Linked DNA regions of Homo sapiens: all the other regions are linked to region 2. Evidence: fine-mapped expression QTL. A gene starts in region 2. Each other region holds a variant in brackets. All regions are shown on one strand. Distances are between the middles of the regions. Region 1 overlaps STARD9 (StAR related lipid transfer domain containing 9). Region 2 holds the start of ZNF106 (zinc finger protein 106). Region 3 overlaps CAPN3 (calpain 3).

Evidence for each region.
Region 1: its variant is fine-mapped to the expression of ZNF106 in whole blood (INTERVAL, PIP 0.95).
Region 3: its variant is fine-mapped to the expression of ZNF106 in whole blood (TOPMed, PIP 0.91).

The regions. Positions count from the first base shown.
Region 1 is chr15:42,599,367-42,609,683 of GRCh38, reverse strand. The region is part of intron 3 of STARD9 (StAR related lipid transfer domain containing 9); the gene reads right to left. Among named protein-coding and RNA genes, the nearest start is that of STARD9, 29 kb to the right of the region's middle. RefSeq lists enhancers at 372-641, 8,270-8,886. The variant A/G (reference allele first, on the strand shown) is at 4,508.
Region 2 is chr15:42,486,444-42,496,760 of GRCh38, reverse strand. It overlaps ZNF106 (zinc finger protein 106), which reads left to right and starts at 5,620. Exons shown (of 22, transcript NM_001366845.3): 1 at 5,620-5,781. SNAP23 (synaptosome associated protein 23) reads right to left here and starts at 1,127. Exons shown (of 8, transcript NM_003825.4): 1 at 1,048-1,127. RefSeq lists enhancers at 367-910, 911-1,454, 5,448-5,557, 5,858-5,907, 5,958-6,147.
Region 3 is chr15:42,408,589-42,416,976 of GRCh38, reverse strand. CAPN3 (calpain 3) reads right to left here. Exons shown (of 24, transcript NM_000070.3): 17 at 7,597-7,674; 18 at 7,133-7,190; 19 at 6,982-7,046; 20 at 6,481-6,549; 21 at 6,311-6,389; 22 at 5,977-6,093; 23 at 5,632-5,690; 24 at 4,660-5,230. The coding sequence ends at 5,204. It overlaps ZNF106 (zinc finger protein 106), which reads left to right. Exons shown (of 22, transcript NM_001366845.3): 22 at 1-4,154. Among named protein-coding and RNA genes, the nearest start is that of CAPN3, 53 kb to the right of the region's middle. The variant A/TA (reference allele first, on the strand shown) is at 3,128.

The DNA of each region.
Region 1 (10,317 bases), 110 kb before region 2:
GGCAGATCACGAGGTCAGGAGTTCAAGACTAGCCTGGCCAACATGGTGAAACCCGATCTCTATTAAAAACACAAAAATTAGCTGGGCGTGGTGGCGCGTGCCTGTAGTCCCAGCTACTCAGGAGGCTGCAGCAGGAGAATTGCTTGAACCTGGGAGGCAGTGGTTGCAGTGAGTCAAGATTGTGCCACTGTACCCCAGCCTGGTGACAGAGCAAGACTCCATCTCAAAAAAAAAAAAAAAGTTTTAAAAATAGTTGTTTCCTCACAAGCAAAGAAATGACACAGATCTACTAAAGAATCTTTTGACCATACCGTCTCTTCTGCAGAAGTGTGTTCATGACACACTGACTGAGCCACATTAGGGTTATGAATAGAAGCCAGGGTTAGAGAGAGGACTTGGGTCACGTTCTGAGGGCTTAGAAGCCTTCTTCAACACTCGACTTATTTGGGCAGAATGACATCACAGAAGAAAAAAAGCATTTCCTTTCTAGCTTTTAGTTTTCTCTTTGTCCCCTTTCTCTTCTTCCAATATATTCCCCTTCCCGCCCCCCACTATCCTCAGCAGCAAAATCATTCAAAAGAGCAGCAGTCCCAGGAGTTTGGTCTCTAGATCTAGGGATGCCCGGAACTGTCATAAGAAAACCCTAGCAAGCCCCTGAGGTACCAAAGAGGAAAGAGGATCTCACACATCTAAGGCTGAAGCTGGGACATGGCACCCAGCAACAACGCACAGTGCATGCTCGGTTAACACTGACTGAATACATGAATACATAATCTATGGACTGAATCCAGAATAGTCACAATAAATGAGTGTTGACTAAAATTAAATTATAGCTGTTCTTTAGGTTTCCCCCAATCCTTTCTGCATTAATTTCCACATATTTGATCTTCAGGCAAGATAAACATTACCAGGTCAGTATCTTCCACAAAGCACCGTTTTCATATTTTTGATTGTGTTCACAAGAGCTCTTTATCACCTTTTGGTATTGGGTCCTGTCAGCACTCTGAGAGGTAGTCCAATATGTCAAAGATGCTTCAAGTTTTTTTGGTTGCTAATAATTTTATATAAGAAAACAAGCCTGGAGGATGGAGTTTTTGTTCTTAACATTCATTCCTGCCTATGTGGAAAAAACTTTTCCTGCAATCAGGCTGCTAGGAGCAAATTTCCTGTTTTTAATACTGTTTAGTCTAAATGGGTCTCTAGAGACCAATCTTAATGTAAGAGAAGCAAGGGAGCTGAGCCTCTGAGACAATTCCGGTTTCATTGTTGGGTTCAGCCAGCCCAGGTGAAGCCCATATCATTCTTGGCAATCCAGGGTCTGGTTGAAGAGATTAGTTATGTGTTCATCTGAACAGCATCCACCTCACGCATCCGGCTGGCAGGGTCCTGTCTTCCCTCAAGCCACACTACCCACAAACCACACTACCCTCCTCCAATCCTAAAGACTAGCTTGCAGAAGGGCAGTGCTGCATGCCAGAGTCACAAGATCTCTAACCACACTCGTCTGTGGCACTTCTTACACCTCAGCCCTTCATAGCAAGTCACTTCAACCAAGCAAACAAAGCCTGACTCCAGCCTTAGCCCATATCCCTGGACAAAGGTGTTTCTCAAGGTTGTCTCAGCAACTTACCAAAGTGTATGCAAAAAAACAAAAAATAAGATAATGGAAAAGAGACCTGCGGGGGGTGGGGGTGAGCACTCAGCTCCACAATTACTTGTTAGTGACAACTAAGAAATATACTGACACAAACCTGGACAGTCAATCAGGAACTTGAGGCTGGTTTTCAATAAAACATAGTAAACCTCTAAAAATCCTAACGGAGCTGACAAATGCCTAAGAGATTCATCCTCCCTACTGTGTAAGTACTTCTATGTGGAAGATACTGATCAGAGGGGGGTAAATAAATACTTGCTAGAAAATAAATACTTGGAAGCAGGTGGGATTTAGGAAAAACCTGTAAAACAATATAGGATTTAATTATATTCAAATATATATTTGTGTGTGTGTGTGTGTGTGTGTGTGTGTGTGTGTATAAGTGTGTGTGTGTATAATATATTAAGATTCTCCTAGATTCAGTCTGGAGGTCCTGTATTTATTCTTTCCCTCTCTAATATGAAACTGGAATTCCTAGGGTACTCCACAGATGAGAAAGAATCTATTCAGAAAAAGAGGCATCAGGAGGGTGGGCACAGTGGCTCACACCTGTCATCCCAGCACTTTGGGAGGGTGAGGTGGGCAGATCACTTGAGGTCAGGAGTTTGAGACCAGCCTGGCCAACATGGTGAAACCCCATCTCTACTAAAAATATAAAAATTAGCCGCGCATGGTGGTGCATGCCTGTAGTCCCAGCTACTCAGGAGAATGAGGCAGGAGAATTGCTTGAACCCAGGAGGCGAAGGTTGTAGTGAACTGAGATCGCACCACTGTACTCCAGCCTGGGTGACAGAGAGAGACTCCATCTTAAAAAAAAAAAAAAAAAAAAAAAAAAGCACCAGAAAAATGCAGGGTTGTGCTGGGAAGGAAAAAGAGCACAATGGTTACAGGGTTGTGCACAGACTTTAGACTCCTCCATGTGGAGGACGTGGCACATGCCTGTAGTCCCAGCTACTCAGGAAGCTAAGGTGGTAGGATCACTTGAGCCCGGGAGATAGAGGCTGCAGTGAGCTATGATCACGCCACTGCACTCCAGCCTGGGAGACAGAGTGAGACCTTGTCAATCAATCAATCAATGAAGTACACTTCAAAACCCAGCCTCTGGGTCAGAATGAGTGAAATGAAGCATCCATTTGCTATAATGGGTGAGCTATTTTTTGTGCCTTAGAGAGTAGCTGGGTCAGTTAGGTCTACTCAGGGGATTCAGAAGAAAGCACCCTGACTGTACATGTATACAAGCACTTACTCTGGATACAAAACTAAAAATAGGCTGGGCGCAGTGGCTTACACCTGTAATCCCAGCACTTTGGGAGGCTGAGGTGGGAGGACCACCTGAGCCCAGGAGTTTGAGACCAGCCTAGGCAACTTGGAAAAACTCCATCTTAAAAAAAAAAAAAAATACAAAAATTAGCTGGGTGTGGTGGTGCGCACCTGTGTTCCCAGGTACTTGGGAGGCTGAGGTGGGAAGGTGGCTTGAGCCCAGGAGGTGAAGGTTGCAGTGACCTGAGATCACACCACTGCACTCCAGCCTGGGCAACAGAGTCCGACCCTGTTTCAAAAAACAAAACTAAAAATAGGTGGTGTTCTGCACATCTCAGAGAGAGGGGCCAATAGAGAGGCTTGAAAACACATGTTCTATATTCATGACTCTTGGTCTTTTCCTATAGTAAATGCAAGATTTAACAGTCCAATATTTTCCAATTGTCAGCTAATTCATGTCATACTCCAAGTATTAGAGGTTAGCACAGAGAAGGAGTGCAAAGGTAGCAGGATGTGGTGAGACAGTAGAATGGACTAAAACTGGGCTTCATCTCTGAACCTCAGTAAGCACATCTGTAAAACAGAGTACTAACCCACTTTACAGGGTTGTTGTGAAGGTGATAAGTACTCAATACAGTACCTGGAAGACTGTAGGTTCTCAAAAAGTGCTATTTTCTTTTCTCCCTTCCCATTGAAGCAAGCTGGTTTGAACATTTTCCAAAATTAAGTACAACTTTTCCAAACCCTGAAATTGAATCTAAACTCCATGGGAATGTTTCCAGATGTTTATGGAAAGAGGAAGTTGTTTGTATTTTCTTAAAATCTCTGATGCGGGAGAAAAGGAAAAGCAATACCAGCCAGAGACCACGACATGTTTGTGCTTTAAACATCGCCACAACACCACCACAAACAAGATGAAATTAGTTTAACAGGGGAGGAACAGTAAAGAAAGAAAAGTAATTATGGGTTTCCATCCCTGTCAGATGTCTTCTCATCTCAGCAGAACCATGATCTCCACCAACTGCATGGAAGCTGCATTAATCTTCCTCGGACACCAATTCAGCGCATATCCCCAGAACGCAGCTGTATCTTTTCTAACTGCCTAACTAGAGAGACAAGAATTGGGAAATAAAGTTATTGACAAAGGGATTATCCCCCACTTCTAGGAAGAGAAGCAAGAAAAGTGAGTTTGAACACACTGTTGTTTACCTCTTCCACTCCTGAGGACCAGCTGTTTAAGGGGCTATTTGTATACAGATGGTGATCTTATGGGCTTAAGTGCACTGCTTCTGCCCTGAAACCAATTCCCCAGGGGCTCTGTCTTTTATAATTTTGACACCTAGACTTGGGGGATGCCTGGGCACATCTGGTCACCATTTGATTTCAGGCTTCTATTGTGTTCAGTCTGTTGCGGAAGTGAGTCTATAAATAGCTCATGTTCCTTTGCCTCATACTTGAAAAATAAGAAACTGTCAACTCTGCCTTTCCTGCAGAAAGGTTTTCGCTGTAGTTCAAACATCTGAATCCAGCCCCTCTATAATGACCATACATCAAGTTAATATGCTAAGTAGCAGCCTCAACCAAATGATTCAT[A/G]TATCTATTTTATTATAAGATTAAATGGCATCCAGAATAAAACTCAGGAGAGAGCTCCATGTTAGGACTAGTGAATAATTCATATGATGCTTTGAGAAGTCTTTGATCTTTTTGGAAACTCACCAAGCTGTGAGGTTAAATTTATGTACATGAAACAGCACCCTCAAGATTTAAGAAGAAATGTCCTTCTCATCTTTGGAACAGAATATATGGATTTAAATTCCATTCGATCCAGGTCAGGCGCGATGGCTCACACCTGTAATCCCAGCACTTTGGGAGGCTGAGGTGGATGGATCACTTGAGCCCAGGAGTTAGAGACCAGCCTGAGCAACATAGTGAGACCTTGTTTCTACAAAAAATAAAAAATTAGCCAGGTGTGGTGGCACATGTTTGTAGTCTTAGTTACTCAGGAGGCTAAGTTGGGAGGATTGCTTGAGCCCAGGAGATCAAGGCTGCAGTGAACTAAGATCACACCACTGCATTCCACTCCAGCCTGGGGGACAGAGAGAGACCCTGTCTCAAAAAAAAAAAAAAAAAAAAAAAAAAAAAATCAATTTGATCCTGAATAAAGCAATCATACTATGAACTAGATTTCCTCCCCTGACAAAAACAATCTTCCTCCCTCTTCACGTTTTTTCAAATCCTTGGTTAAAATATGATAACATTTACCACACTGTGGAGTAATTCTCTCTTTAGTATCTGTCTCTGTCAAGAACTATTAGTTTTTAAAGGACAAATACAATGTTGGTTCTTATTGGTTATTTCCAGTGCCTAGCACAATTCTTGGCATATTTTTATGTAAATGCATGCTGAATGAATGAACGAGGTAGAATAATCACATATTATATGACCTTATGAGCTTCCACAAATAAAAAAATCAAATTTGATGTTGATTTAAGAGACAGGTAAGAGAAGCGTGGATCAAACAAGTAGAAGCAGACAGACTGAAACTGCCTTTGCAAAAATCATGACAGTGAAAAATCTGACATAGGAAGTTATGGCAGTGAAAGAAATCTGACCTAAGCAACTCCATCTTACTTCTAACCTCCAGGCTACCTTGTTCACTCCTGGGCACAGGTCAAGCTAACTAAGGAAGGAATTTATAGTTTAACTTTGAAACAGGTAACAGCCCCTTCCCCAAACAAACCCCCTCCTTGCATGGGGACCAGACCACCTTTGTAAAACTAACACATTAGCCACAAGACTAGAAATTACGGTGCAGGAGTCATGCAGTCAGGGATCACAAGATTCTTAACCTCCTCAATTGCTCCTATAGATAGGAACTGAAGTATTTTTCCTTTGGTTCTTTGAACCAAAGATAGGAATTGAAGTATTTTTCAGACCCTGTATTCTGATGACCAGCTGGTGCCACCCAGACCTTACAAAACTGGCTCATCTGGTCCTGTGGCCCTCCCACCCAATAACTGACTCAGCACAAGAAGACAAGCTTTGACCCCCTATGATTTCATCCCAGACCCAACCAATCAATATTCCCCATTCCCTAGCCCCCTGCCTGCAAAACTATCCTTTAAAAACCCTCGTCTCCACATATTTGGGGAGACTGATTTGAGTAATAAACTCTGGGCTTTTGCTTAGCTGGCTCTGTGTTTATTCAACTCTTTATTGTGATTCCACTGTCTCGGTAAATTGGCTCTATGGGGCAGCAGGCAAGAACCTTGTAATCTGGTGATTACAAGAACAAAGACACAAATTGTTTCCTCTTCACCTCCACACCTGCTCACAATTCTAAAATGTCTATTTTTGGCTGGCATGGTGGCTCATGCCTGTAATCCCAGCACTTTGGGAGGCTGAGAGGATCACAGGGTCAGGAGTTCGAGTCCAGCTGGGCTTGCATGGGGAAACCCAATATTTACTAAAAATACAAAAATTAGTCAGGTGTGGTAGCACGTGCCTGTAGTCCCAGCTACTCAGGAGGCTGAGGCAGGCTGCACTCCAGCCTAGGCAACAGAGCAAGACTCTGTCTCGAAAATAAATAAATAAATAAATAAAAAGTCTATTTTTACTGGAAAGTGGGCTTGTGTAAATATATGTAAATCACAGAATAATTGGAGCCAACATATTGTAACAACCACCTCAAACTTTATCCTGGAAAAGAATATATGAGGCCAAACTCCAGTCCCAAAAAATGCAGTTCAGAAAGAGCAGCAAGTAGCAGCAAGGATCCATACTGGATATGAGGCAGGAGAATAGGGTCTAGAGGCAGGGAACCTAAGGCTCTCACGCCAACTTCCCAGAACTAAACTGAAAGGAAAACCCTAGACTTTCCACGCCTAAGTAACAAAAGTAACAAAAGGGGTGGGATGAAGGAGTTGGGGGTCTTGGCTTCATTTGCAACTTTGTAACTTCACTCCACAGCTCTGAATGGTTGCTGTCTACAACCAATCAGGCTGATTGCTGGCCGAGTCTTCTTCGTTTACCATAGAGGTATGACTTTGTAACTTCACCCTAACCTCTGTTTGCACAGCAGTGTGACTTTTGCAACTTCACTTCAGGCTCTGGTTGACTGCCTTCTGCAACCAATCAGACAGATTGCAAGCTACCACTTCATTTACATGAGGTGAGCATGCAGTGGCCAATGGGAAAACTTCTAGAGGGTATTTGCACCCAAGGAGATTCTGTATCTGATCCCTTGAGTCAGTGCTCAGCCTGCTCCCATACTGTGGAGTGTACTTTCATTTTTAATAAATCCCTGCTTTCATTCTCTCGTTTCATTCTTTCTTTGCTTTACTGGGCATTTTGTCCAATTCCTTCTTCAAAACACCAAGAACCTGGACAACTTGCAGTCACGACCCCTCTACCTTGAACATACCATACCTTAGCCAGGTATATCAAAACCTGCAACTGGAAATGCCCCAAAATATTTCATAGTAAATTATCAATTTCTGGCTTTGGCTTTAAGAGATAAAGTCACCCAGCCATGTTCTAGAAGCCAGAGCATACTATTGCCATGTCTGACAAAGACTCTGCCTGCCTTTGGTGTAGGAAACAAACACTAAATTAAAATTTGCTCTAGGCTGGGTGCAGCAGCTAATGCCTGTAATCACTTTGGGAGGCTGAGGTGGGTGGATCACTTGACGTTAGGAGTTCAAGACCTAAGCCTGGCCAACATGGTGAAACACTGTCTCTACTAAAAATATAAAAACGAGCCGGGCGTGGTGACACGCACCTGTAGTCCCAGCTACTCAGAAGGCTGAGGCAGGAGAATCACCTGAACCCGGAGGCAGAGGTTGCAGTGAACTGAGATCGCACCACTGCACTCCAGCCCAGGTGACAGAGCAAGACTGCCTCAAAATAAATAAATAAATAAAATAAAGTAAAATAGGCTCTAGAGTCCATAGAGCAAAATGTAAATTTTTTGCAGATCATCTGCTGACGCTAGACTTAATGCTATAGGGTTTGTGGAATATAAATCAAACACACTGTCCATCTTTGCACTGATAGGTGAAATAAAGAATATATTAACAGACCGACAATGGAGAGTTTTGCTCAGAAAACCCTCCTGTAGAAAAACAGATATATCCGGGAAGTGGGGGGCAGCCCCCACCCGGCCAGCCGCCCCGTCCGGGAGGTGGGGGGGCAGCCCCCGCCCAGCCAGCCGCCCCGTCCGGGAGGTGGGGGGCAGCCCCCGCCCGGCCAGCCGCCCCATCCGGGAGGTGGGGGGCAGCCCCCGCCCGGCCGCCGCCCCGTCTGGGAGGTTGGGGGGCGCCTCTGCCCGGCCGCCCCGTCTGGGAAGTGAGGAGCCCCTCTGCCCGGCCGCCACCCCGTCGGGAGGTGTACCCAATAGCTCACTGAGAATGGGCCATGATGACGATGGCGGTTTTGTCGAATAGAAAAGGGGGAAATGTGGGGAAAAGAGAGAGAGATCAGACTGTTACTGTGTCTGCGTAGAAAGAAGTAGACATAGGAGACTCCATTTTGTTCTGTACTAAGAAAAATTCTTCTGCCTTGGGATGCTGTTAATCTATAACCTTACCCCCAACCCGTGCTCTCTGAAACATGTGCTGTGTCCACTAAGGGTTAAATGGATTAAGGGCAGTGCAAGATGTGCTTTGTTAAACAGATGCTTGAAGGCAGCATACTCGTTAAGAGTCATCACCACTCCCTAATCTCAAGTACCCAGGGACACAAACACTGCTGAAGGCGGCAGGGCTCTCTGCCTAGTAAAACCAGAGACCTCTGTTCACATGTTTATCTGCTGACCTTCCCTCCACTATTGTCCTATGACCCTGCCAAATCCCCCTCTCCGAGAAACACCCAAGAATGATCAATAAATACTAAAAAAAAAAAAAAAAAGAAAGAAAAACAGATATATCAAGTGAGATAAACGAAGCAGGCTGGCACTGTGGCTCATGTCTGTAATCCCAACACTTTGGGAGGCCAAGATGGGCAGATCACCTGAGGTCAGGAGTTCGAGACCAGCCTGATCAACATGGAGAGACCCCATCTTTACTAAAAATACAAAATTAGCTGGGCATGGTGGTGCATGCCTATAATCCCAGCTACTCGGGAGGCTGAGGCAGGAGAACCGCTTGAACCCGGGAGGCAGAGGTTGCAGTGAGCCAAGATCGTGCCGTTGCACTCCAGCCTGGGCAACAAGAGCGAAACTTGGTCTCAAAAAAAAAAAAAAAAGAAAGAAAGAAACGAAGCAAAACCCTCTCTCTCTCACACACACATGCACAAGCACCCCCCATTTGTTTACCCAGCACCTAGCCCATCCCTGGCATATAATAGATAAATGTTTGTTGAGTGAAGAATGCTTTTTCTGTAACCTATAACCTTGTATCCAGTATACACTGCTTCCTCTCCTCAGGTTAAAAGTCCTCATAGCTCCTCCAAATTATCTAAAGGGAAAGCACCCATCCTCCCTTTCTTGCTTCCTGGAATGGGAGTGATGACATGTCCTATATAGGCTGGACTCAACTAAGTATCCAGTACGCTTCTGAAACCACTTTGTCATTGTACCAGAGAAACCGTTTGGTCTTCATCTCCTCTAGGAGTCTGGACCAGCTTAGAGGTGAAATATAGGAGTCTGGCCTCCTGAAACACTTGGAAAGATGGGCACTGTGACTATATCCTCTTAGTTTCACCCAGACTAGCACCACCTGATCCCCTCAAACACATGGTGTACATTCCTGCCTTAGAGTCTTTAAGCTGTCCCCTCCAACCAAAATGACCCTCCCTGAACTCATTCAAAACAAACTTTGGATATGTTATTCTTCTGGATTCCTTAAGTACTTACTCTAAGTACGATTATAACACTTAAATGCTTGTTATTCTTGATGATCTTTACATACCTAAAGCCTGGTAATCCCAATAAGACTGTAAGCTTTTTGAGGGCAGGAATCACATCTACTACTCTGTATTCCTCGCAGCACTAAACCCCATGTGTTGCTTCCTAAATGCTTACTGAATGAATGAATAAATGAATGGTCACTGTGCTAGGAAACGTGGCATGTTCAAAGATAGATGAGACCTAGTCTGCCTTCAAGGATCACTCAGACTAATAAAATAGATAAGCCTTGTATCCAAAGAGCATTAACTTTAGTTAGTAAACAGAATGTATCACAAGGGAGTAACAAGATACTATGAGAATCCAAGAGATGGTGACTTCAAGGAAGAAGCATCATTTTAACTGAACCTTAAAGAACAAGCAGTATTTTGTACGATAGAAACTGGAGAGGTGAGATGTATTAATATACACTAGGAAGAGGAGCCAATATAAGCAAAAGCAGAGAAAGATATGGCATTTTGGGGAAGGGCAATAACCAAAATAACTAGGACAGTCTGAG
Region 2 (10,317 bases):
AATTACCCAGTCTCGAGTATTTCTTTTGCTTTTTGTTTTTTTTTGAGTTGGAGCCTGACTCTGTCTCCCAGGCTGAAGCTCAGTGGCACGATCTCGGTTCACTGCAACCTCTGTTTCCCAGGTTCAAGTGATTCTCCTGCCTCAGCCTCCGGAGTAGCTGGGATTACAAGCATATACCACCACGCCTGGCTAATTTTTGTATTTTTAGTAGAGATGGGATTTCATCATGTTGGCCAGGCTGGTCTCGAACTCCTGATCTCATATGATCCTCTCTCCTCGACCTCCCAAAGTGCTGGGATTACAGGCGTTAGCCACCAAGCCCGGCCTTGGGTACTTCTTTATAGCAGTGTGAGAACGCACTAATACAGACCCCATTCCAGGAGATGACAAATAGCAAAAGGCAAAATGATACTCCCTTCTTGACTTTTTTTTCCTCTCCCACTTTTATGTCTTTACGTTTCCTCCTACCATCAACTGCCTTTCCTAACATTGTGGTGACTGATTAAAGAAGAAAAAAAGGACGAGATGAAACTACACTTTACAGTACTTTTTCCCCCCACCACTCCAATCCCGAATTGTGAAATTCATTCTTTTCCTGATCCTCTAATTTGTGCAGTAATGCCGCGAGGTAAGGCTGAACCTTTCTAGAGAGCAAGGGCTATCCAATACCAGGAACCTCAGAGTCCTTCCTCAAGCCATTATCTCAGAGCTATCTGATCACTGTGGTCACCATACAGGCAGTCTATTAATGTCAACTACAGCAACACAGTAAGGGTGAGGGGCGGAAAGTGATCTCTGTTTAATTTCGAGGAAGGGTCCAGAGAATTACCATCCAGCTACCCTTCCTCCACTGGTCCCTCGATGTTCTCCCGGCACCTCCCGTCCTCTCTCCGGGCCCATCTGCCGAGTAAGGGCCAGAGAGCCCCCTCCTCCGCTTAAGCCCGACCCCACCAACTTTTCAACCAATACGATACACTCTTTCTTCTCAGGACATAGTCTCAGACTTCATCCCGGCCAGCTCCCTCCGTCCCACTCCTGGAGACTCACCAAGCGGGCGAGGCCACTCCTCTCCGGCGGCAACTCGGACACCCCAACACCGGACCTGGCGCTGCACCCTAGTCGCGCCTGCGCGCGCCGAGCCCGCGCGCCTGCTCACTTCCCGTTCGCCGCGGACACAGACACACCCCTGCAGCTGGAGCCAATCACGGTGCTGGGGGTTTAAATGTCCCTGCCACGCAGACGGAGAGTCTGGGAATTCACTAGTTAACCGGATAGATTTCAGTCCTGCCCGAAGCTGGGAGGTGTTCATGCAATAAACATTTACTGAGGGCAAACCGTATGCCAGGCACTGTGCTGGATGAACGCTGAAGAAAAGAAAGCGAATACAGTGCTTTCCCTGCTCTTCATCGCCTTTCAATATGTCTAGACTAAGATATAGATATGTAAACAAATTATAGTGGATAGAATACAGTGCATAGCACATAGAAAATTTGAGGCGCCTTTGGCTGATAATGAACAAAGCGTTTTATTCTTAGGGGTGTCTGGAAGGGTTCCCGGAGGAAGTGACTTGAGTCATGAAGGATAAGTAGGAGTTCCCCCGGAAATCCGGCAGAGAAAGAGCTAGAGTTTTCCAGGCTCTGGGGAACAGCTTATGTCGAGAACAGCATAACGCCTTCTGGAAATTTCTAGTAGTTCATCCTTGTTAGAGGCTTAGTGCTAATCGTACATCCCCGAGTGTAGAGGAAAGAAAGCTTTAGAAGGCCAACAATCGCTAGATCTTGGAAGGCCTTGGAATTTTAGACCACTTTGTACTAGGGGCACTGAAAGCTATTGAAGAGTTTTAAGCAGATGGAGGATTATTGTAAACTATTTGCTGCAGGAACCCCTCCATGCACCTCTAAGAATAAAATAAACTGCTGGAAATCAAGAAAAGAAAGTGCTTCACCAGGCACAGTGGCTCACGCCTGTAATCAATCCCAGCACTTTGGGAGGCTGAAGCGGGCAGATCACGAGGTCAGGAGTTCCAGACCAGCCTGGCCAACATAGAGAAACCCCATCTCTACTAAAAATACAAAAAATTAGCCGGGCATGGTGGCAGGCGCCTGTAATCCCAGCTAGTCGGGAGGCTGAGGCAGGAGAATCGCTTGAACCTGGGAGGCGGAGGTTGCAGTGGGCCAAGATCATGCCATTGCACTCCAGGCTGGGCAACGAGAGTGAAATTCCGTCCCCCCTACAAAAAAAAAAAAAAAAGAAAGAAAAAATAGCTGGGTGTGGTGGCGGGTGTCTGTAATCCCAGCTACATTACTATCATAATGTCTATCACTGGCGACAGTGCCAGACTCCATCTCAAAAAAAAAAAAAAAAAGTGCTTCAAGGAGTAAGTAGTCTATTCCTAAGGGATCAAGGAAGATGAAGCCTGAGAAATGTTTTTTTTAATTTCATAACACAGAGGTCACTGATTATCTCAGTGAAAGCTGTTTGTTGGAATGCTGGGGTTGAAAAAAACAACTTAGTAGTTTGGAGGTGGGGGAGATGTAGAGATGGGGACAAGTTGTAGAATGCTTTTGGAAAGTTTGGCCTTGACAGGGAGGAAGGAGGGAGAATGATGAAGGATCAAGATTTTTTGTTTTTGTTTTTTTGATTTTTGTTAGAATTAAGACAGGAGAAACTTGAGCATGGTAGGGAAGATTCAACTGAGAAAAAAATGGTTGAATAAAGGAAGAGAAGGGATAGTCAGTAGGCAAAGATCTTGAAAGGGTAAGAATAGAGGCAGTTTAGAGGCAGTTCGAAACACTGGTAAGAATAATGGTTTTGGAAGAGGGCAGGGAGGGAGAAAGAGAGAGAGAGGAGATATTTCCCCAATTATGAGAGGAAGTATGTTTCTGTATGTTTAGTAACAGGAAGTTAAAGTTCTCATTTGCTGACTTGTTTTCTCTGTGAAGTTGAAGATGGGGTCATCTTCTGATAGAAAAGGAGGTGGTATTGGGAGTTTAAAGGAAAGCTGAGAAGATTTGGAATATTGTAGAAAGTAATACAACAAGTTGACAGAAGAATGTTGTAGGACTGGTAAGCAATATTGAGGGCCTTTTTAATATGGGCAAAAATGAACTCACCATTTTCTGCCCTCCTGTGTAAATTTCTCAAGCAGCAGTCACTTGTTGAGGGCAGAGGTGGAGAAAATGTATGGTTGAGTTCATTAGTTCATTTAGGGTTGTGATGGTCATTGATATAATTCCGTGGTTCTCAACCAGGGACGATTTTGTCCTCCGGGGGATATTTGGCAATGTCTGGAGATGCTTTATTGTGATGACAGGGAAACGGGGGTGGGTACTACTAGCATCGTGTCCAACAGTGCTGCTAAACATACATACACACACACGCACACACATATATGTATATATATATAGAGAGAGAGAGAGAGAGAGAGAAGGTCTTGCTCTGTTGCTCAGGCTGGAGTGCAATGGTGTGATGTCAGCTCACTGCAACCTCTACCTTTGCAGCTCAAATCCTCCCACCTCAGCCTCCTGAGTAGCTGGGACTACAGGTGTGCACCACCACTGCCGGCTAATTTCTGCATTTTTTGTAGAGACACGGTTTCACCATGTCACCCAGGCTGGTCTCAAACTCCTGGACTCAAGCGATCTGCCTCCCTTGACCTCCCAAAGTTATAGGATTACATGTGTGAGCCACTGCTCCCAGTCTGCTGCTAAACATCTTATAATGCACAGGATACCCCTGACAAAAAAGTATATGTTCCAAAATGTCAGTAATCCCAAAGTTGAGAAACCATAATCTAGCGTTACCTTGGCACTCACCAATATCTGACTGTGGTCTTCTACAGGCTTTTCCCTGAATGATGGCCCAGAGTTTATAGGGTAAAATAGTTCCTCCATTGCATGCCTTTGAAGGAGAATAGAATGAGCAGCGTACCACAACCCTTGAGTGTTTCAAGGACTTGTGATGTCACAAACACGGAATTGGAAGTTTCCTAAACCTCTAGAACAAATCTGGATTTACATAGAAGAGGTTAATATAGCCGCTTCCTTTCTTTTTTCTCTCTCTTTTTTTTTTTTTTTTTTTTTTTGAGACGCAGTCTCGCTCTGTCGCTAGGCTGGAGTGCAGGGGCGAGGTCTCGGCTCACTGCAACCTCCGACTCCCGGGTTCAAGCGATTCTCCTTCCTCAGCCTTCCGAGTAGCTGGGACTACAGGCACGCACCACCACGCCCAGCTAATTTTTGTGTTTTTAGTAGAGAAGGGGTTTCACCATGTTGGCCAGGATGGTCTCGATCTCTGGACCTCATGATCTGCCCACCTCGTCCTCCCAAAGTGCTGGGATTACAGGCGTGAGCCACTGTGCCCCACCGCTGCTTACTTTTATTTGAGACGTTGAAGGTCTTGTTAAACAGAGATGTTATAATCTCAATAATATAGGAGGGACACTCCACATAATTATCAACCTGAATGTCATTTCATTTATCTGATAGTCTTAGTCACTAAAATTAGGTTTCTGAGGGAATGGGTATGGGCTAAGTTTAATAATAAATATAGGCGGCCGGGCGCGGTGGCTCACACCTGTAATACCAGCACTTAGGGAAGCCGAGGTGGGCGGATCATTTGAAGTCAGGAGTTTGAGACCTGCCTGGCCAATATGGCGAAACCCCATCTCTACTAAAAATACAAAAATTAGTTGGGCGTGGTAGTGCACGTCTGTAATTCCAGCTACTTGGGAGGCTGAGGCAGGATTATCGCTTGAACCCGGAAGGTGGAGGTTGCAGTGAACCAAGAGAGCGGTTCTGCACTACAGCCTGAACGACAGAGCAAGACTCCATCTCAAAATAACTAACTAACTAACTAACTAAATAAATAAATAATAAATGTAGGCTGGGCGCGGTGGCTGACACCTGCAATCCCAGAACTTTGGAAGGCCAAGGCAGGCAGATCACTTGAGCCGAGGAGTTTGAGACCAGCCTGGGCAACATGGTGAAACCCCGTCTCTACTTAAAAAATATTATAAATACCTTAGGCATGAGTAAGAATAAAGTCAGTATTATGGAATGTCTGCTCTGTGATAGGCAGCATTCATAGATAAACACTTGACCTATGTTATTTAATCCTAGCAACACCCTGTGAGATAACATTATCCTAATTTTAACTCAAGAACCTGAGGTTCCAAGAAGAATTGTAATTTACCCAAAGTCACAAATTATTCGTAGCTAGTCCAAGATCTGAAACTCAGGTCTGGCTGTTCTAAAGCTCTTGCACCTTCCATTCAACTTCAGAAAGTTTTACAAGGAAGGAGTGTTTTCAAAATGTAGCCCGAACAGTTGCCACTGACTAAAGGAAATGGCGGGACACCAAGGAAGAGAGTAGGAGCTACAGGGAGGCCGGGAAAGAACAAGGAGAAACAAGGAGAATGAAAAAGGGACCAGGGAGGCTGTTCATAGCGTCCAACGCTGCGTACTGACTCTCCCGCAAGCGGGCCTGCCTTTGTTCTTCCTCCATTCTTTTTGAGAAAAACCTCTTCCTGTGTGTCCGTTGTTCACTCTCTTGTGTTCAAATAAAGCTAGATTATTGAGAACTGCGGACGGCAAAGGAAAAAAAAGCGAGCGTGACGGCTTCGGTGTGCGCCTGCGCGTTGGCGGCGGCTGTGGCGGGGCCCGGCGGGGAGCGGGTCCGGAGCAGGCTCCCGGACCCAAAACTGAAGGGGGCGTCTGAGGCGTCAGGGAGCTCCCTCGCCTGGCTCTCGGCGGCCTGATGGAGTAAGAGGGGTTGGCTGTGAATGTGAGTATCGACGGGCCGGCCTGCGTTGAGCGTATCGGAGCCCAAGGGTCCTGGTCGTCTGCCCCTTAGGGAGGTTGTGGGGCTGCAAGACACCACCGGGTTTCTACTCCTGCAGGCTGCGGCTCAGGGGCAACCTGGTGGTCCACTCTCCCAGAGCCGGCGCGGGTTTATGGGCAGGCGGTGCTGCTGGCTTCGGGGTACGGATTTTCGCGGGGGCGTTCCAGCTCTGCTCCCAGCCCCAGAAGGAAACGTGGCTCCAAAGCCTTGACCTTTAGGGGAAGCCACTGACCTCCTTCGTCCCCAGTTGGGCAGGGAGTCCAAAGACCCTGGTCCTTAAAGCCCGTAGGTCTCAGGCCAGGGACACATTTCAACCTCTCGCGACTGACAACCTCCGTTCTTTTTCCTCCTTTCGTTTCTCTCCTTGTGGGATGCGTCTTGATAATAACAACTAATAACAAATAGTAACAACAGCTTACTGTGTCCGTTTAATATTTAGTCCGAATCTCGGTGTATAATTGTGGAGAGGAAATGCTTTACATCCTCTTCCCCTTTCAATTTGTTGTGTAATCATCTTTGAGAGTAAGATTAAGGCATCTTATTGAGAAGTTTGAGATATCCGTGGCTTTTAGCAACTTGAGACTGTCATCCTAGGTAAGCGAAGTTCTCTTACCTAGCAAATAAGTGCTGTATCCACCATAATGGTTTATATCCAGTTTATTCAAAGCACAAATAACTTCTTTTTTTTTTTTTGAGACAAAGTTTCGCTCTTGTTGCCAGGCTGGGGTGCAGTGGCGCGATCTTAGCTCACTGCAACCTCCGCCTCCTGGATTCAAGCAATTCTCCTGCCTCAGCCTACCCAGTAGCTGGGATTACAGGCACCCACCACCATACCTGGCTAATTTTTTGTATTTTTATTTATTTTTATTATTATTATTTTTTTTAGGACGGAGTTTCGCTCTTTCGCCCAGGCTGGAGTGCAGTGGCGGGATCTTGGCTCACTGCAACCTCCGCCTTCCAGTTTCAAGAGATTCTCCTGCCTCAGCCTCCCGAGTAGCTGGGATTGCAGGCGTGCACCACCACCACGCCCGGCTAATTTTTGTATTTTTAGTAGAGACGAGGTCTCACCATGTTGGCCAGGCTAGTCTCCAACTCCTGACCTTAGGTGATCCACCCACCTTGGCCTCTGAAAGTGCTGGGATTACAGGCTTGAGCCACCACGCCCGGCCCACAGATAACTTTTGAGTGCTTATTAAGAGCTTAGTACTGTTGTAAATAGCATGGGAAATCTTAAAATTTGCTTTAAGCCCCGTTCTCAAGTTTGGTCGTGAATGAAATAATGAAAGACAATTTTCAGATGCAACTAGAATTTATTTAGTATCTACTACACATTTGCCAATACCGCGCCATGCCTAGAGTTAACTCTTGAGTCTAGAAGATAGTAGGAGCCCTTTAATTAGAAATACTAGATGGTTTTCGAGGAGAACTTTAAAATGGCCTGGAAGGGGCCAGGCGCGATGGCTCACGCCTGTAATCCCAGCACTCTGGGAGGCCGAGGCGGGCGGATCACCTGAGGTCAGGAGTTTGAGACCAGGCTGACCGACATGGAGAAACACCGTCTCTACTAGAAATACAAAATTAGCTGGGCATGATGGCACATGCCTGTAATTCCAGCTACTTGGGAGGCTGAGGCAGGAGAATCGCTTGAACCTGGGAGGCGGAGGTTGCAGTGAGCCAGGATTGTGCCATTGTACTCCAAAAACGAAACTCCATCTCAAAAAAAAAAAATTAAAAAATAATAAAAAATGGCCTGGCAGGAGGTAGAGGGTGTGAACGAATCTGATCAGGCTAGTTCAGAACCTATTGTGTGTGTGTGTGTGTGTGTGTGTTGTTTTTTTTTTTTTTTAGAGAGAGCCTTGCTTTGTCGCCCAGGCTGGAGTGCAGTGGCGCAATCCCAGCTCACTGCAACCTCCGCTTCTTGGGTTCAGGTGATTCTCCTGCCTCAGCCTCCCGAGTAGCTGGGATTACAGGTGCCCACCACCATGCCTGGCTAACGTTTTGTATTTTTAATAGAGACGGGGTTTCACCATGTTGGCTGGGCTGGTCTTGAACTCCTGACCTTAGGTGATCCACCCACCTCAGCCTCCCAAATTGCTGGGATTACAGGTGTGAGCCACAGTGCCCGGCCTCAATTGTTTTGATTAAAAGGAAGATATTTAAAAAGGAAAGACTATGAATAGTGATTATTGTACATCTAGATTAGTGCACGTGTAGTCTGAAGGCTGCTCTACAAGAGTTGAGAGGAATGGAAGATGCTAGACGACTTGGTTCTGGGACCAGGAATGGCTCAGTGAGAAGTCTATGTATTGTGTGTTTTGTAATTGGGAGTATCTTAGTGGAGAGTTTAGGATTAATTTCTGTACCCAATGAATAAGAGCACCTGGGCAGACAAGTTACATATGAATGCTCTACTTGGACCTCTAGCATGTGAAATCACTAGTGGAAACTCTACAGTCGAGTGTGTGTGTGTGTGTGCATGTTTGTGCATGTTTTAATCTGAAAGAAACTATCAAGAAGCTCCCAGGTCTTCATCAGTGAAGGATTGGTTAAATAAATGTATGAATTTGCTAGAAAGAATGAGCCAGCTCTATATGTGCTAATATTGAGTGACCTCCCATATAGTGAGAAAGAAAAGGTGCAAAAGAGGGTGTGCATTTTGCAACCACTGTGGTTTTATAAAAATATTATGTATTGCATATACAATTGTTCCTCCATATCCGTCCATGGGTTCTGCATCCATGGATTCTACCAACTTTGGATGGATAATATTTGGGGAAAAAAAATTCACAAATTTCTGAAAAGCAAAACTTGAATTTGCTACGTGCTGAGTACATACTACATTGCATCCACATAAATGAAGTTATGTGTAGGCATTGTATTAGGTCTTACATGTAATCTAGAGATGATTTAAAGTATACGGAAGGTATGTGTAGGTTACATGCATATACTGTGCCATTTCATATAAGGGTCTTTAACATTCTCAGATTTTGGTATTGAGGGGGATCCTGGAACCAATCCCCCATGGATATCGAGGGACAACCATATATGCATAGAATATCCTCTGTGGAGGATAGTCAAAATCATAGAGACAGAAAGTAGAATGGTGGTTGCTAGGGGTTGAGGGAGGGGGAAATGAGTTATTGTTTAATGGATATAAAGTTTCAGTTATGCAAGATGCAAGTAGTTATGGAGACGGATGGTAGTGTTGGTTGTACAACATTATGAATGTATTTAATACCACTAAACTACACTTAAATGGTTAAGATGGTAAATTTTATGTTTTGTATTTTCATGCAAAAAAATTGAAAAATATCTCTGGAAAACAAATAAGAAACTCACAAGAGTGGCTGACTGGAAGTGGCGGTGGCTAGGAAACAGGAGGGGGTAGTAATAGTTTTTCCTAAAAGCTTTTTTTTTTTTTTTTTTTTTTTTGAGACAGGGTCTTGCTCAGTCACCTAGGCTGAAGTACAGTGGCATGATCATGGCTCACTACACCCTCAAACTCCTTGGCCCCAGCAATCCTCTTCCCACCTCAGCCTTCTTAGTAGCTGGGACTACAGGTGCGTGCCACCATGCCCAGCTAATTAATAAATTTTTTGTGTGTGTGAAGAGGAGGTCTCACTGTGTCACCCAGAATGGTGTTGAACTCCTGGCCTCAAGTGATTCTGTTGCCTCAGCCTCCCAAAGTGCTAGGATTATAAGTGTGCTGCCACTGCATCCAGGCCATATTTTCCCTATAAGCTTTTTTATTTTATTTTATTTTATTTTTTTAAAGATGGAGTTTCACTCTTGTTGCCCAGGCTGGAGTGCGATGGCACGATCTCTGCTCACTGCAACCTCTGCCTCCCAGGTTCAAGCGATTCTTCTGCCTCAGCCTCCCGAGTAGCTGGGATTACAGGCACCTGCCACCATGCCTGGCTAATTTTTTGTATTTTTAGTAGAGATGGGGTTTCACTATGTTGGCCAGGCTGGTCTCAAATGCCTGACCTGGTGATCCCCCCACCTCAGCCTCCCAAAGTGCTGGGATTACAGGCGTGAGCCACTGTGCCTGGCCAAAAAAATTAATTTTTTAATTGGCAATAAAATATATGTATTTATTGTGTACAATATGGTGCCTTGACATATATATATATAACAAGTCCTCACTTAACATCAATAGGATCTTGGAAACTGTGACTCTAAGCAAAACAGCATAATAACAAAACTAATTTTGCCACAGGTTAATTGATATAAAAAAGAGTTAAGTTCCTATGGCATATTTCTGGTCACAAGAACATCACCAAACTTCTAAATGAAGACCCCAAACACTTCTAATACTAAACATTGAAATAAATGTGAGCTATACGTAGATGTAAAAAAGAGTAGCTTGGGCATGGTGGCTCATACCTGTAATCCTAGCACTTTGGGAGGCCAAGGTGGAGGACACTTGAAACTGGGAGTTCAAGATCAGCCTGGGCTTCAAAGCGAGACCCTGTCTCT
Region 3 (8,388 bases), 79 kb after region 2:
ATCATATGTATATTTTATTGATTTCAGTTTGCAATTTTTAATTTATGTTCTTATGATGGTTTAAACCTATAGTCAGGCTTTTAAGTACAAGTTTGTTTAAGTGCCAGACTTTGAGGATCAGTTTTAATTTCTCCATTTGTAATAGCTGGGTATTTAAACTGGAAGCAAATAGTTTTCTTTCTTAACAATTATGTGCAGTGTGTGTCACTGTTTTCTTGCTTTATAGATAGAGCTGGCTTTAAGTGCTAAAGGACACAGTAGATTTTTGACAAACAGTGGCTGCTCTGCTGACTATCTTTTAGGAATTCAGGAAGCAAATCACATAGTGACAAGTCCTTACAGACACCACTTCTAGTAAATCTCTGTAAATGTGGATAGAAAGCTCAGTGTGAGGCAGTGCGTAGACCTAACGTCTACCTTTACATCTGCTGTTGAACCTGGGCACTACCTGTTACAGATCCTGTCAGGCTGTTGAACTGGAGGTGTACCTTTATCTTCCTTTCTAGTGTCTGACCCTGCAAGCCTAATGTTGGTTTGAACCCTTTTGGTTTGTTCAGTTGCCAGCCTCCATCTCTCCCACTGTATGGCCGTGCCTAGACCGATGGCAGCCATCGAATATTCCTCTGGGCTCACGGGGTGTTTTCCACCCCCCTGCAGCAACTAAGATGGTGGGGGAGAGGGGGTTAGAATAAAGCATCTGAATACAGTTTTCAGGACCTCAAGCAGACTTCCTAGAGACTTGTTTCTGAGACAGTTCTTTGCCTTCACTTCCCTGCTAGCTGGGAAAGAAGAGTGGAGCAGAGACTCTGCCTGGCCACTGAGAACAGCCAAATTCACAAACCCTCAGTGGGGCTTTGTTTTTGGATTTTCTCCGGACTCATCAGTAAACCTGTAGAAGTGTCGCTTTCCAGCCTTTTGTTTCTGGATCCTCAAAACTCAGAACGTGGCCGGGCGTGGTGGCTCACGCCTGTAATCCCAGCACTTTGGGAGGCTGAGGCAGGCAGATCACCTGAGGCTAGGAGTTGCAGACCAGCCTGGCCAACATGGCAAAACCCCGTCTCTACTAAAAATACAAAAAGCCGGGCGTGGTGGGCGCCTGTAATCCCAGCTGCTCAGGAGGCTGAGGCAGGAGAATCGCTTGAACCCGGGAGGCAGAGATTGCAGTAAGCTGAGATCGTGCCACTGCACTCCAGCCTGGTGACAGAGTGAGACTCCGTCTCAAAAAAAAAAAAAAAAACTCAGCTTCTTCAGAGAGATAAAATTGGGGGAGGAGCCCAGGGCCACATACCAAGCTTTGGGACATGGTGCCTCATGCTCTCTGGGATTGCAGACCATCCAGGTCTGTCTTCGCCCCTGTTAGTGCACATATATCCACTCACATGTCTTCCCTCAGGCTATCGGGCAGGGGGACTTCACCAGGGGGTTTATGGATAGGCTTCAAGAGGGTCTGTGAGCCCCCAGAAATTGTGTGTGAGACTGAGTATGTGTTCTTTTTTCCAGGAAAGGCTCCAGTGGTTCTTACTTGATCCAAAAAATGTCAAGAATTAATCTAGGAGGCCGGGCCTGGTGGCTCACACCTGTAATCCCAGCTCTTTGGGAGGCCGAGGCGGGTGGATCACTCAAGGTCAGGCATTTGAGACCAGCCTGGCCAACATAGTGAAACCCCGTCTCTATTAAAAATACAAAAATTAGCTGGGTGTGGTGGTATGTGCCTGTAGTCTCAGCTACTCAGGAGGCTGAGACAGGAGAATCACTTGAACCCTGGAGGTAGAAGTTGCAGTGAGCCAAGATCATACTACTGCACTCCAGCCTGGGCGACAAGAGTGAAACTCCACCTCAAAAAAAAAAAAAAAAGAGTTAATCTAGGAGATAATGAATGGCCTAGTACTAGATAATATATGGCCCCACAAGCTCTTGACTTCTGTCCTTGGGGAAAGCCATTTTGTTAACCACACTAGTGAGATTTACATGATGCTTAATGGAGAACAGAGAAGATCTTGTTGCAAAAGGTGTATTAAATATTTGTGCTGTTTCTGTATGAGATTGAGAAGCTTTTCCCACCTCTCACCCCTATTTCCTATAAGGATATCCAGAGAAGCCAAACTGTTCTGTGGGTTTGGGAATGGTCATTTCCCGGGAAAATGCATCTGGATCGATGACTAAACCTGGCCCTTTTCTCTGGGCTGTAGTGAAGCCGCATTTTCACGCTGGCTGGCAGTGTGCTGAGAGCCTCGAATGCTCTGCGGCGTAGTGCCCTTCTGCCCTGCCTGACGATGTATCGAAAAGATGAGAGTGAAGGAGACTTTGTGCAGCAGGAAACGGGTAGGTGAGGTGTTGGGCAGTTGTGGGAACTTCTGAGAGTATTACAGAGTGGTAGAATCGGTAAGAACTCTGATTTGGACTTCGCTTTGGTGGAACTGTGTGCCTATACCTGCCTGTGTGTGTGCAAGTGTGCAGGTTCCTTTGTATGTATGTGTACGTGTGGGAACCTGTGTTTGTCATATTTTTCTTCATTTCACAAAGGCTTTTTTTGAAGCAGTGGCAGTATGCCTTTGTTTCAAGAACACATGAAATTCTTTTAACACCAGATTAGTGTGTTACCCCAAATGAACGGTTCTAGCCCTCTATTAAGAAATAAAGGGACCATAAGCATTTTGGCTGCTTATGGCTGTGTGTTACTACTTACAAGAGTCTTGAAAATTATACAGAACTTTGCCTTCTTTTTTTAATGTCTTCCACAATGTTGTGACTGATTATAACCCTGTTTCCCCTCAGAGAAGAGCTATGGCTCAGGGATCTGTGTTGACTCTGGCATTTAGTGGCTTTGTGAAGGAAAGAAACCATTAAATGACCTGACAAAAACTGACTCATGTCTTTAAAGTAGTTGAAGCCACTTTTAGAATGTTACTCTCGGTTGCTTTTGTCTAATTCTAATGGCTTAAAGCCAAGAAAACCATAGTATAAATCTTTTTGTGTACCTATGCTAGTGTTTAAATGGCAGTTCGTTGTGATAAAGTATCAGTCACTTCAAGTTTTCTGTGAAAGTTTTTAATTAGGTTAAAAATAATTTTGGCATACGTCTCTACTCAGTTTATAAAGCAGTTCCACACCATGCAAACAAAACTCT[A/TA]ACAGCAAAGGTTATCTTGACCTGATGTTACTTGAATCTGAGAGAAAGTCATTACTTACTACTGCACTCCTGCTTTTGTGGGAAAAATTTTCTTCTTCCCCAGAAGAGTTAACAGTTGAGTGTTCAGCTCCTGACTTACCTTTAATTTAGAGGCAATATTATTACTGTTTAAGTGATTATTTGCTTAACACAGGTTTTATTTTGTCTTTTTGCTGGTAGATTATACAAGGGACAACTTTAGTGATGAGGCATGTGGATGATTTGGTGGGAGTAGGTATATACTTAGTGGAATGGTTTATTTTATGGAAGAGAATTCATTGGAGGTGAGATTGAAGTATATTGTGAAGTGGGATTTGAACAGCACATATGCTCTGGTTTGCTCAAATAACTGCAGTTTATGCTTACATCTAAATTTTGTTTCTGTTACCTAAACGGGAGCTTCTAGAATTACGAAGGCCATACCTGCCACATTTATAAAATAATGGTTTTATCCCTGCCCCCAAATCATCAGGTTCCTCGGGTTTAAGAGAAGTGGTCTAATAGACAGGAATAGAAGTTGTGGTGGAGGTGATTTGGGATAGACTAGGTTTCCTTATGCAAGTGGATATGAGCTCCTCATAGAAACCAGACCTACTGTATTAGACAGTAACCTCTAACCTCACCTCCAAGCCCAAGTATATGGCCCTGCTGGGTTACCTGGTGACTACATTTCCCAGATTCACTCTAAATTCAAGGTAGTGACCCAAATAAATTGGGAAAGGAGGGGGTCAAGGAGGAAAAGCTGTTGAAAATCTTTCTCCTATTTAAGAGAAATATATGCCCTAGAGCTGCTCCAGCACCCTTGGTTTCTGATTTTTTTAATATTGAATATGGATTAGAAGAATGAAATCAGATGACACCTGACTGCAAAAATGTTTATAAGCAAATAGCCTTCTTACATTTTGGTATAAAGCTGTGAACTTCGTAACTTTGTAAAGCAAGATATAAAGCAAATACAAGAGGAAAATAAAGTACTTTTACTAATTGACGGTTTACTTTCGTTACCTTGTCTGCATATTCACGGCCAGCCCTTTCCACGTTGGCTTAGCGAGGAAGAAGGAAACTGGGTGGAAAACACAGGATGCCTATAGATATGCCGCAGGCCATGGTCCAGAGAAGTTTAGCAAACAAACAGCTGCGTTCAGGGTTTTGTCCACGGTCATGCGACAGGTCAGTTAGTGAGCAGAGGAGCTAGGATAGCTCAATCTCCACTCCATTATTCAGGTAACCGGCCCCTCCCGTTGTACATGACCCATTTATTCTTGATGTCTTTTACAGCAACAACTATTCCTCTGCCTTCCTTTTATGTCTTGGAAAGTATCTGAGCCATTCTTATGCTCAAGAAATAGCAATAGGCATGATTACAAAATTCAAGATTTTGTTTTTGTGTGTGTTTTTCATTGTTCTCTTGTAGGTGATAGGTGAGTATATGATTGGAAGCCATTCAGTCATGCATGGCTGATATCTAAATGTGAGACAACAAAACACAAGGGGACCAGCCATACACATGCCTTTATTTAGATCAGCTTTTTTCAAAATGCAGCCAAACTTATGAGTTGGACAGCCCAAAGTAACCAGCCCTATTCCACTGAGTTAGTTTACCCCACAGCAGTAGAACCCAGTGCTGGTTTGGTTCCTGGCCCATGGTGGGACAGCGTGAAGGTGATGGAGGGCTCTAGCACAAGGAGGTGCTGAGTGCCACCGGCAGGTGCTTCTGCAGACAGCCTAGAGCAAGGTAAGCAGGAGCACTCGCTTCAGAACCGAGGCGGCTCGGACCAGAGGCAGGCACTTTCCTCCACATGGCAAAGGGACAAGGGTTTGTTCTTCCTACCTCATTGCTTTACTAAAGGGTCAGGCTAGGCATGACCGATCAAGGATGGGTAGGGGGTAAAATGGAGGAGGAGCATGACTGATGAGGTGCCTGGAAGCCTGTAGGGGTGTAGCTGCTGGGTCCTTTGAGGTAAATGGCTTTGGAAATAGAGGGTGAAACTGAAATCCTGAGTGATCCTGCATGGCTTTGGATGAGGCCAGCCTGGTTCAGGCATACATGGTGAGCTGCAGCCACTGAAAGAAGTCCCAAGATCAGAATGTAGATCAGAAAAGAGTGACCCCCCCCCCCCCCGCCCTAGGAATCTTACGGGGCAAGAGGAAAGGGAACAGTCCCAGCAGGTCAGACCCCCAGAAGATTTTCCAAGAAGCAGTGGCTTACTGTTTCCTTTCTCCTAGATCTTCCCTAAGAAGGTGCATGTTTTCCCGCATCAAGTGACTGGGGGAGCAGAGGTCCTTTTGGGCCTCAAGTGCATGTGTCCTGGGAGCCTGCTGAGCCTCCCTCCATGTTCTGTTCCTATCCCTTCCCTCCACCACTGTGTGGAAATGAGGAGCACACCCTGGGTCCAGTCCGCCCCGTTGACCCCTCCACCTTGAGTTTTAATGTGTAGGGGGAATGTGCTGTGCCTATGCTTTACCTCCAGAACGTTGAGCTTGATGATACCATCTCCATCCTTGTCAAATGCATGAAAAGCTCCTGTGAAAGAATGCACAGGCCAGAGGCCAGTTACAGGCGCACTCCGCCTCTACTACTGTAACTTCCCCTCAGAGGACCATGTGCCCAGTGCTGTCCCTCATCAGCACAAAGATGTGCAGGCAGAGAATCACCAGTAACCCTCCCTTTGCCATCCCATTCTGGGCCTAAAGAGGTCATTGGCCCTTGTTCAGCCTGGATGGAGCAGACTGGAGATTATCAGGTGAGATGCCTGTTGCCACAACTGCCCCTGCAAGAGAGCAGAGGGCAGCCCCCCTCTCCCACTTACTGAACATGCCCTCCAGCCTAACGAAGCAGCAGATGAAACTGTCAAAGTCGATGTTCATGTGTTTGTCTGCGTACCGCATGGTAATGATGTCATAGAGCTGGTTGTTGAGGTGGAATCCTGTGGAGGGGACCATGTTAGAGGTGGACGTGGAGCTGGAGGCCTTGGGCCTGCCTTCTATTTTCCCTGCCTCTCGGCCACTCTGTGACCTGGGAAGGGAAAGTGAGAAGCCCTTTCCCTCTCCTTTCTCTAGTGGGGCCCTAGTAGCCTAGTCCCCTCCCATTCCTGCTCCCACCGTCTCGGGTCCACATCCCTGCCACCCCTTCCTTCTCAGCACCTGCGTCGTTGACTGCATTTCGCATCTCGTAGCTGTTGATGGTGCCGGACTGGTCTGTGTCATAGTGTTTGAAAATTTTCTGGCAATAGAAAATTTGAGGATGGAGGTCACACACTGAATCTCCAAATCAACCCCATTCTTGACTCCCACGCTTCATTTTCTCTTCCCACCTGCCAGGCCTTAATCTTGTTCCAGAGGTGGTGGAACTCCTGCAGGTTGAGCTTTCCAGAGCCATCTGTCTGGAGGAGGGAGGTCAGGGCTACACAGCACACAGCAAAATCCCCCTGGATTTGGAGGGAGGGTCTAGGAGACTCCGGGCTGTCCTACCCACTGCCCTGTTGTACTATTTAACCCTCCCCTCCACTCCACCACCAGTCAGAGATTGCGCCTACTCTGTAACCCAGGAGCCGCTCTCCTAAGGACCACTTTTGCTTGGGCAGGATCCCAGGCCTGAGAGAAGCACAGGGGTTAGGGCAGTTACAACCCAACATCCTCCCCTTCCGCCTCTAACAACCCCTTTCAGACGAGTATCCAAGATGTTCTGAATCAGGGTCTCCTTAAGTTTCCCTGGGCACAAATTAGGGCCCTTTGCCTGACTGGGCACCCTGTATGTTGCCTTGGCCCCCGTGGGCTGATGACAGAGGGTCGGGAAGGGGCGGCAGGAAGGATACATCCATGAGCGCAATCATGCTACGGCAGGACTCCAGTGTGAACCCGTGTGTCTTCAGGTCCTTGTCTGGGGGGATGGAGAAGAGTGAGGAGCTGCTTTGAGACAACGGGACTCCCCACCCACCCCACCCCCATTTGGTTTGAGCAACTCACGTTTGTTCACGACTGTGTTAAGGACCTTCTTGAGCTCATCTGCACAGATCTCCATGTCCTGAGGAGGAAGGGAGAGGAGGGTCATGGTTCAGGAGTACAGCAGCTCCTGGCGCGGACACTTTGCAAAACAAATTCCACCTGGCTGTGTTTGTAAAATCCCTGTCGGTGCTATTATGTCATGGGAAGCTGGGGCTTTTCTGAGGAAGACAGGGGGCCAGATACTGCACCTCAGCTATCAGGACCACCGTGGGCAGCTCAGAGCAAAAAGGCCTCTGAGCCCCCCAGCAGACGTGGCAGTCCAAAACTCAAGGGCTTGTGGATTTGTGTGCTACGCACACATCCCCTGGCTCCACCAAAGTCCAAAGTGACCTCTACCAAACAATAATGAAATAATTGGTAATCTGAGCAGTTAATCCAGGAGAGAAGGAAGCACCTGTGGGCGTCCTGGGCTTGGAGGTACTCACATCTCCTGCTATCTGCTTGAAAATGTTCCGGAATTGTTGCTGTTCCTCACTTTCCTGATCAGAGCTGCCAGGCTGTGGCTGTGGAGGCACAAAGGAAAACTGGTTCACAGGGGTCAGAGGTGCACAGGCCTGTGAGGCAAGCTCCTCTGGGCCAAGGGAGCCAAGTGCCTAAAACGGCCGGAGGTGGCAGCAGGAGCTGGGGACGGGCAAATGCAGACCTGGTGAGCTGGAGTGAGATGCATCGAGGCCTCAGGGACTCTTCACACCTCTCCAGCCCTGACGCCCCCAGCCAAAGGAGATATGGCGGCCATACAGCCTCCTCCCCGCCACCCCAGTCCCCACCTGCAAGAGCCCCCTCCACCATCCCAGGCCTGACCATTCCAACTAAAGGTGCCCGCAGGTCAAAGAAGGTCTGACCGTTCTGATTCCTCCAGCCACCCTGTCATCAAGGCCAAGTCCTCAGAGAACCTCCCCTAGGCCCCACTGCATGAGGCCCCAGATAGAAGAGGGGCTCCCAGACAGAAGAGGGGCCCTGGATAGAAGAGGGGCCCCCGGATAGAAGAGGGGCCCTGGATTGGTCTGGAGACTTTTGCCTCTAAGGCTCACCTCCACTAAGCTCCCACTCCAATCTAACACCCTCCCGTGAGCTCTAGAGGACCCCATTTCTGAAGTCAGCCCCACTTTTCTGCTCCTATCCTTTATCCCCCTATTGTGAAATGCTCAAGGCCACCAGGAGACAAGAGTTGCGCCTCCGCTCTCAAGCTGGTTCTGTCTCAGCCTTTGCCTCCCCTT